Regions from separate parts of the Homo sapiens genome. Here region 1 is linked to region 2. The links come from fine-mapping of genetic effects on gene expression. A gene starts in region 2. The other region holds a variant in brackets. All regions are shown on one strand. Distances are from middle to middle. Region 1 overlaps SETD2 (SET domain containing 2, histone lysine methyltransferase). Region 2 holds the start of CSPG5 (chondroitin sulfate proteoglycan 5).

The links. PIP is the estimated chance that this variant, and not a neighbour inherited with it, causes the effect.
Region 1: its variant is the best candidate, but not a certain one, in a credible set for the expression of CSPG5 in sun-exposed skin (GTEx, PIP 0.78).

What each region holds. Positions count from the first base shown.
Region 1 is chr3:47,052,806-47,056,805 of GRCh38, reverse strand. The region is part of intron 15 of SETD2 (SET domain containing 2, histone lysine methyltransferase); the gene reads left to right. Among named protein-coding and RNA genes, the nearest start is that of NBEAL2, 75 kb to the right of the region's middle. The variant T/C (reference allele first, on the strand shown) is at 2,082.
Region 2 is chr3:47,576,867-47,581,385 of GRCh38, reverse strand. It overlaps CSPG5 (chondroitin sulfate proteoglycan 5), which reads left to right and starts at 2,521. Exons shown (of 5, transcript NM_006574.4): 1 at 2,521-2,789; 2 at 3,458-4,519. The coding sequence starts at 2,693. RefSeq lists an enhancer at 1,192-1,896 and silencers at 3,021-3,070, 3,111-3,170, 3,221-3,310.

The sequences.
Region 1 (4,000 bases), 520 kb after region 2:
ACTTTTCTTTTCTGCTTTATGGTCTGTTCATGGGATGTTAGTTAAATCTGGTATAGGGGAGGAAGTCTTACCATGGACTACTTGTATATATTGATCAACTTTATATGTATTGGTTATCTATTGTGTGAAATATTGCCAGAACTTGTCAGCTTAAGACAATAAGTAACTCAGAAGCAGCTTAGCAGGGTGGATCTGGCTCAGGGTTTTCCATGAAATTACAGTCAAGCTGTTGGCCATGGCTGCAGTCATCTGAAGGCTGAACTAGATATAGAGATTCACTTTCCAACCTACTCACATTGTTGTTAGCAGGCCTCCATTTCTCCCAAGGGAGAACCCTTCATCATGGTAATATTTTTGTGTTTTCTAAAAATCATGGTCAGGCCAGGCGTGGTAGCTCACACCTGTAATCCCAGCACTTTGGGAGGCCGAGGTGGACGGATCACCTGAAGTCAGGAGTTTGAGATCAGCCGGGCCAACATGGTGAAACCCCATCTCTACTAAAAAATAAAAAAAATTAGCCGGCCATGGTGGCTCATGCCTGTAATCCCAGCTACTTGGTAGGCTGAGGCAGGAGAATCGCTTGAACCCAGGAGGCAGAGGTTACAGTGAGCTGAGATAGCGTCACTGTACCCCAGCCTGGACAACAGGGCAAGATGCCATCTCAAAATAAATAAATAAATAAATAAATAAATAAATAAATAAATAAATAAAAATCATGTTTTCTTTTCTTTTTTTTTTTTTTTAGATTATACAAGGCAGAACTTTTTTTTTTTTTTTTTTTTTTTTTTTTTTTGAGACGGAGTCTCGCTCTGTCCCCCAGGCTGGAGTGCAGTGGCGCGATCTCGGTTCACTGCAAGCTCCGCCTCCCGGGTTCACGCCATTCTCCTGCCTCAGGCTCCCGAGTAGCTTGGACTACAGGCGCCCACCACCACGCCTGGCTAATTTTTTTGTATTTTTAGTAGAGACGGGGTTTCGCCGTGTTAGCCAGGATGGTCTCAATCTCCTGACCTCGTGATCCACCCACCTCGGCCTCCCAAAGTGCTGGTGGGATTACTGACGTGAGCCACCGTGCCTGGCCGGCAGAACTTTTTTTTATTTTTTATTTTATTTTAAGAGATTAGGTCTTGCTCTGCCACCCGGGCTGGAGTACAGTGATGCGATCATAGCTCACTACAGCCTTAAACTCCTGGGCTCAAGTGATCTTCCCACCTCCCAAATAGCTGGGACTACAGGTGTGCATCACTGTACCCTGCTAATTTTTTTAAGAGATGCGGTCTCACTGTGTTGCCCAGGCTGGTCTTGAACTCCTGGCCTCAAGCAGTTCTCCTGCCTTGGCCCTCCCAAAGTGTTGAGATTACAGACGTGAGCCACTGTGCCTGGCCAGCAGTACATTTAAAGCTTTGAAAAAAAAATGTTCAAAGCATTATCATCACCACATTTCTGTCTCTCTCCCAGCACTCCTCATTACCCCTTAAAAATGAATTATTGTGGATGTTGAAGACTCCCAACAATGTTTCCTGCACATAATACTTAGTATTAAACAGTAATTTTTACTTCTGTTCATATTTTCATAATGAAGCTGTATTAAAACATTTGTTAAAATGGCCATGACAAGGTATCCTGTTTTAATTACTAAAACCCTAACTGTATTAACTACTTTCATTTTTTATGATCCTTTAAAGCAAGTTTTATGTATTTTATATATTTGTCTTGACTTGAAGTTTTTTATCCCATGTTTTCCTACTTAAAATGATTTTTTTTTAAGATAGTAAGTCAGACTTTATTTAAGAGGAGCCAGTGGGGATAAGTATGGGGACCACTGTGATGGGATCTTGGAGTAGGGGAAAGAGATTTGACTCAATTCCTTAAAATGATTTGTAACCACTTTTTCAAATTATTTACTATTATACTATATGTGTGTGTGTACATATACATATACATACATAAATGTTTTAATGGGTATAATACCCTATTTGCTTATATAGTCATCCATTTTACTGGGGGTAGTCATTTAAATGAAAAGTTATTTTTCATAATTATAAATAGCATTCCATTAAACATGCTTATAGTTTTTTTCTGCT[T/C]TTTGTTTGCTGTTTGGTTTAAAATGACTGTTGTTACAGAAGGCTAGTAAAAATGTGGGCATTATTGGTCATCAGGTGTGAATTGTTTGTGTGTGTGTGTAGGGAGAGAGTATGTTTCATTCTCCCTCCTACAGAATGTTTTGGGTTTTGGTTTTGGTTTTGTTTTACTGTCAGTTTGACTTGGGTATGAGCCATATTCTTTCTTGGACCAAGCCATTAGTTTTGAGTTTTTCCCTAAAAATATGTATCAGGGATACAGTAAAAATGGTTTATGTCTATCCCCATTCCTATTCCTGAAATAGGTCCCATCTCAGTACTAGAGCCTAAGCAACAGCAATGAAAGATATCCATTAAAGACTCCTCAGTAAAGAGCTCCCTGGTCATATGATTTTTCTTATAAAATAAAATCCATTTATTCCTTCCCAATGAGAAAAAAAGATTCTCTTGGTTTTATTCATTAGCCCTAAGAGCCAAGCATCACAATTTACTTGCTTCTAGTCTTTCATTCTGTCCCTATCAAGAAGTACTTACTGATTCCCTAATCTACTTTGTGTGTACTTAAGTAGTAGGTAAATGGGCTGTGGTGGTTCAACTATCCTTCCGTTCCCCACTGTGTGAGATTAATTGATCAGATGATACTGGGCTTTGGGGGTATTGAGAAACATAGAATATATTGTTAGTATGTGTTTTGAGTCCTGGTTTATCATTTACTGTGCATCCTAGAAACAGGCATTAATATTCTTGAGTCTTTGTTTTCTCATCTATAAAATGAGCAGAATGCCTCAGAATGGTTTGATTTGCATTAAGATAAGGGATATTAATAATGATAGATTCAAAGCACCATATACCTTGATGGTTACTTACACAAATAGTTACCTTAATAGTATTCAGGGGAGATTATTGACATTAATGGGCTGTGAAGTAACATCTGGTCATGTTCATCCATCTGTTGTCTAGCCCTAAAAATCTGACCTCTAGGAGCCTTGAAGTTTGTGTTGTTGAAGCCCAGTGTTAACCATACAACATGGCTACTCAGAGTTTGCAAGCTGTGATAACCTTGGCGGTGAAGTAATATGTAACATGATATAATATACATTTACGTCTGTGTATCTACATATTCAGTATCTTTAATATTTGGAGCAAATGTGTTATCAGAGGTGACTGATTTTTTTACACAACTGCATACTAAACATAAAAGCTCAATTTTAACAGAGGTCACGTAATTTGTAGTGGTCTTGTGACACTAATAAGTGACTTACTCTCACAAAGTTATACAAAATTACATCTCAAGAGTTTGAGTGCTTAGACTATAATTTTTCATTTTAGGTTGGTGCAAAAGTAGTCATGGCTTTTGCTGTTAAAAATGGTGAAAACTACTTTTGCACTGACATAGTATAAAGTGAAGTGATCCAGATATAAAGTAATAATGATTTTTTATTATTCTAGAGGTGGTAACAGAAAAATTGTATTTTTCTCTCTATAACCTATTGGACCTTCTCACATTTCTTCTGTAATTCCCATTAGAAATCACATTTTAGGCCGGGCATGGTGGCTCACTCCTGTAATCCCAGCACGTTTGGAGGCCAAGGTGGGCAGATCACCTGAAGTCAGGAGTTCGAGACCAGTCTGGCCAACATGGTGAAACCCATCTCTACAAAAATACAAAAATTAGCTGGGCATGATGGTGGGTGCCTGTAATACCAGCTACTGGGGAGGCTGAGGCAGGAGAATCATTTGAACCCAGGAGGTGGAGGTTGTGGTGAGCCAAGATTGCGCCATTGCACTCTAGCCTGGGAGACAGAGCGAGACTCTGTCTCAAAAAATAAAAAAAAGTCACAGTTTAAAGATACTTCTAGTGGGTATATATTTGAGAAACTAGCATTCGTGTAACAATTTTTTTTTATTTTTGGAGACAGAGT
Region 2 (4,519 bases):
GAAATACTCATTTGACTCTCTGGTTACCAAGCATTTTCACATATGAGAGACAGGTTGCTAACTCAAAGTCACGCTGCAGCTGAATCCTGCCCTTCCCATCACGTTCCACTGACTGAATTTTCCCATTCATCTTGTGGAGGTGTTACCCAACCAAGTGTGCTATGCTCAGTTCTCAAACTGCTAGTGAGATCCACTAGGGAAGATCAGAATGAAACTGAGTGGCAACAATTGATTTAAAGTCTCAAGTTGGGCCGGGCACGGTGGCTCATGCCTGCAATCCCAGCACTTTGGGAGGCCAAGGCGGGCGGATCACCTGAGGCCTGGAGTTCGAGACCAGCCTGAGCCAACATGGAGAAACCCCGTCTCTACAAAAAATACCAAATTAGCCGGGCGTGGCATGCCTGTAATCCCAGCTACTCGGGAGGCTGAGGCAGAGAATCACTTGAACCCAGGAGGCAGAGGTTGCAGTGAGTCAATATCACACCATTGCACTCTAGTCTGGGTGACAGAGTGAGACTCTGTCTCAACAAAAAAAAAAAATTCCAAATTGAAGGAAGCGTTAGCAGACTTCATCTCCAGGAAAGGGAAGAAGAAGATACTTAAATAATTAACAAAATATATTTAAAATGAGTGGGAGAACTTCCTCCATTAAACCCTGTTGAAAATGTGTGAGTGGTTGTCATGCCCCAGACATCAAGGAACCCATCCATGAGGTCTTCCCACACAGACTGGCCTCAGGAAGGGAAGGAGGAGGTAGGCCGCTCTGACAGCCACAACCCGAGTTGAGGAAACAAGCAAAGGAACACAGAGAGTCTACATACAGTAAAAGGTGACAGGAGTTAAGCTGCACACAAGGGAAGCAGAGATGGGTTGGAGGCAGTTAAGGGTGCGTTGCTGCCTCTGTGGCTGAGGTGAGTGCAAAGCCCTACATGGTCCCCTGTTTAGAGAAGGCTATTGTTTCAAACATATTTTACTTGGTCCCCGGAGGCAGCATGAAACTATGAAAGAAAGAGCCTTACCCCTTTTTTCAAGGCTCTCCAGACCACAGTTCTGGGATGGGTGTGGGTGGTTGCCATTCGTTCATTTATGCCTGTCTGATATGGAGCCTCCCTCTGTTACCAGCCCTGTGCACTCAAGTGCCTTGCAGTCCAGTGAGGAATAACTGTAGATAAGATGAGATGATGGGCATTAAGTGTAACTGCTGAGAAGCCTTCATAGAGGGAAAGGTGATAAGAACTGAGTTTTTCTGGCATGAGGAGTTTACCAGGCAGGAGAGGTGGAGACGCTAGGCTAGGCAAATAGGCTGCAGCCATAGTTCTGCTGAGAAACAGGTTTTGAACCAAGGCAACTCCATCTGGAGATATGTATCAGAAAGATTAGGAGATAGAATCTCCATCTTGGTCACTTATTTGGTCTTCTAAGACAGCAATGGGACCGTCTCTTAAATACTGGAGTTGTCCTATCTCCTTGGGCTGATACCCTGAACTGTCATTTGGGTGAGTAACACATTAAGGGGTAGACGGTCGGTTTGGGGGAATAAACTAAGTAACTAGGTTGCGGTTCCTCCTGCCGACTAAGCAGACCTCCTGGTGCGTGGTCTTGGGTTGCCCTGTGAGCCCTGAAGCTGTGAATGGGCCCCACAGATCACTCTAAAGCCAAGCATCCATGTGTGCCCGGCTGGGGATCTAGACCCCCCTGGTCTACCCAGGAACCTGAGTTTTGGTGGTCTGAGACACCTGGGGGACGACGTATCCCGGAGAAGGGACCAGGATTAAAGGCCGCTCCCCAGGCTGCCCGGAGACTAGAAGGAAGGCGAGGTAGCCGCAGTCCCAGGGAGGGTCTTACCCCTTGCTCCCGGGATGCGTTATGGCGGGCCTGGCTGTGCGAGATCTAGGCTAGTGGCTTTGGCTGCGAACGGATTAGATCTGATCCGATTAGAGCCTGGGCGGTCGGCTTCGCCCCCTTGCCAGGCTCTGCCAACGCCCGCCCCTCCCTCGTGGAGACCCGGAGACCTCCCTGAGAGCCTTCCCGCCCGGAACACGGGATTGGTGCAGAATCCGAGAGGCTCCATGCGCCCCGGGCCTGGCTTGTTTCCACAGTGGGGGCTCGTGCTTCCGCCCCCTGCGGCTCTTCTGGACCCCGCCCCGACCCTGCGGGTAACTGGGCCCGCGACGTCCCCGCCTCCGTGCTTGCCGCGTGGCGGGTGGGTTCCTCCGGGTCGGGGCCCCGTGCCGCCTGTTCACCTGGGGCGGGACCGTGGCCCCATCCCACAGGTCTCCCGCCCGTGCACCTGCCGCCTAACGCCGCGCGCCGCGCCGTGCGCCTGCCTCGCGCTCCCCGTCCGCCTGCCCCGCACTCCCCGTCCGTGTGTCTCCTAGTCCCCAGCGAGGGGTCTGTCTGTTCCCCTGGCAGGCTGACCAAGGGGCCGGCGTCACCGCTACGTGCGGCGGGGCCGGCGCGGCGGGCGGGGTGAGGGCGGCGCTGAGCGCAGCGGCGGCAGCGGCGGCGCGGGAGGCGGGGAGGCGCGGCGCGCCGGGGACAGCGGCGGACGGCGGCGGCGGCGGCATGCGGCTCCTCGCGCTGCCCATCGTGGGCTGAGGCGGCCGCAGAACCGGCGGGAGGCGCGGCGGCCGGGCGAGCCGAGGGCGCAGCCAGCCGGGCGGACCGCGGACAGCGGTCGGGGCGCCGCGCCATGGGGCGAGCCGGGGGCGGGGGCCCGGGCCGGGGGCCGCCGCCACTGCTGCTGTTTCTGGGGGCCGCGCTGGTCCTGGCCTCTGGGGCCGTGCCGGGTAGGTATGACTGCGCCCGGGACCCCCGCGGCCCTCGTGCCCCACCCAGGGCAGGGGTCCCGCTGGCGGCGGGGACAGGTGGAGCTGTGAGCTGTGGCAAGGGGGCGGGGCACCGCCTGGCCGCGGCCGGGCGGCGGAATGGTCCCAGGAGGTGGTGGGGGTCCGGGAAAGGCCGACCCGCGTGGGGGCCGACCCCGGTTGGGGTAGCCGGGACCCAAGCGCGCGGGCCGCGGTGCGGACTGGGGGCGGGGCCGGGGGCGGGGCCGGGGCGGGGCCGGGGCGGGGCCTGAGGGTGAGACTTCGGGGCGGGACCTGGAGCTGAGGGCGGGAGCCAGTGGACGCGGCTCAGGGTGGGTTCCCGAGGGTGAGACTTATGGGTGGGCCGAGCTGGGGGCCGCCCTGGCCTGGCTCTTCAGACGGCGGGGCAGGTCGGGCGGGGCCGAGCCGCGAGGCGTTGGGCGGGGTGTGATCCTCGTCTTGGGGGCAGACTCCGGGACGGGGCTTAGAGGTACCGGGTGGCTGGGGTCACACTGGGGCGGTGGGGTCTGAGGGTGGCGAGGTCTGGGTTGACCAGGTCTAGGCGAGCGGGCCTGACCGGGGCGGGCCGGGGCTCCAGGGCTCCTCAGCGCGCCGCCCTGACGTCCCGCCCCTTGCCCTCCCGCCCGCAGCGCGTGAGGCGGGCAGCGCGGTTGAGGCCGAAGAGCTGGTGAAGGGCAGCCCGGCGTGGGAGCCGCCTGCCAACGACACGCGGGAAGAAGCCGGCCCACCAGCGGCTGGGGAAGATGAGGCGTCGTGGACGGCGCCCGGTGGCGAGCTGGCCGGGCCAGAAGAGGTGCTGCAGGAGTCGGCTGCGGTGACCGGCACCGCCTGGCTGGAAGCTGACAGCCCAGGCCTGGGAGGAGTGACCGCAGAGGCGGGCAGCGGCGATGCCCAGGCCCTTCCAGCTACGCTCCAGGCTCCCCACGAGGTCCTCGGGCAGTCAATCATGCCCCCTGCCATTCCTGAGGCTACAGAGGCCAGCGGGCCACCCTCCCCCACCCCCGGCGACAAGCTGAGCCCAGCTTCTGAACTCCCCAAGGAGAGCCCCTTGGAGGTTTGGCTGAACCTGGGGGGCAGCACACCCGACCCTCAAGGGCCAGAGCTGACTTACCCATTTCAGGGCACCCTGGAGCCCCAACCGGCATCAGATATCATTGACATCGACTACTTCGAAGGACTGGATGGTGAGGGTCGTGGCGCAGATCTGGGGAGCTTCCCAGGGTCACCAGGAACCTCAGAGAACCACCCTGATACTGAGGGAGAGACCCCTTCCTGGAGCCTGCTTGACTTATACGATGATTTCACCCCCTTCGATGAATCTGATTTCTACCCCACCACATCCTTTTATGATGACTTGGATGAAGAGGAGGAGGAAGAGGAGGATGACAAAGATGCAGTAGGAGGTGGAGACCTAGAAGATGAAAATGAGCTTCTAGTGCCCACTGGGAAGCCTGGTCTGGGGCCCGGGACAGGCCAGCCCACCAGTCGGTGGCATGCTGTCCCTCCACAGCACACTCTGGGGTCGGTCCCCGGCAGCAGCATCGCCCTCAGGCCCCGCCCAGGAGAGCCAGGCAGGGACTTGGCCTCCAGTGAAAATGGCACTGAGTGCCGCAGTGGCTTTGTGCGGCATAACGGCTCCTGCCGGTCAGTGTGCGACCTCTTCCCAAGTTACTGTCACAATGGCGGCCAGT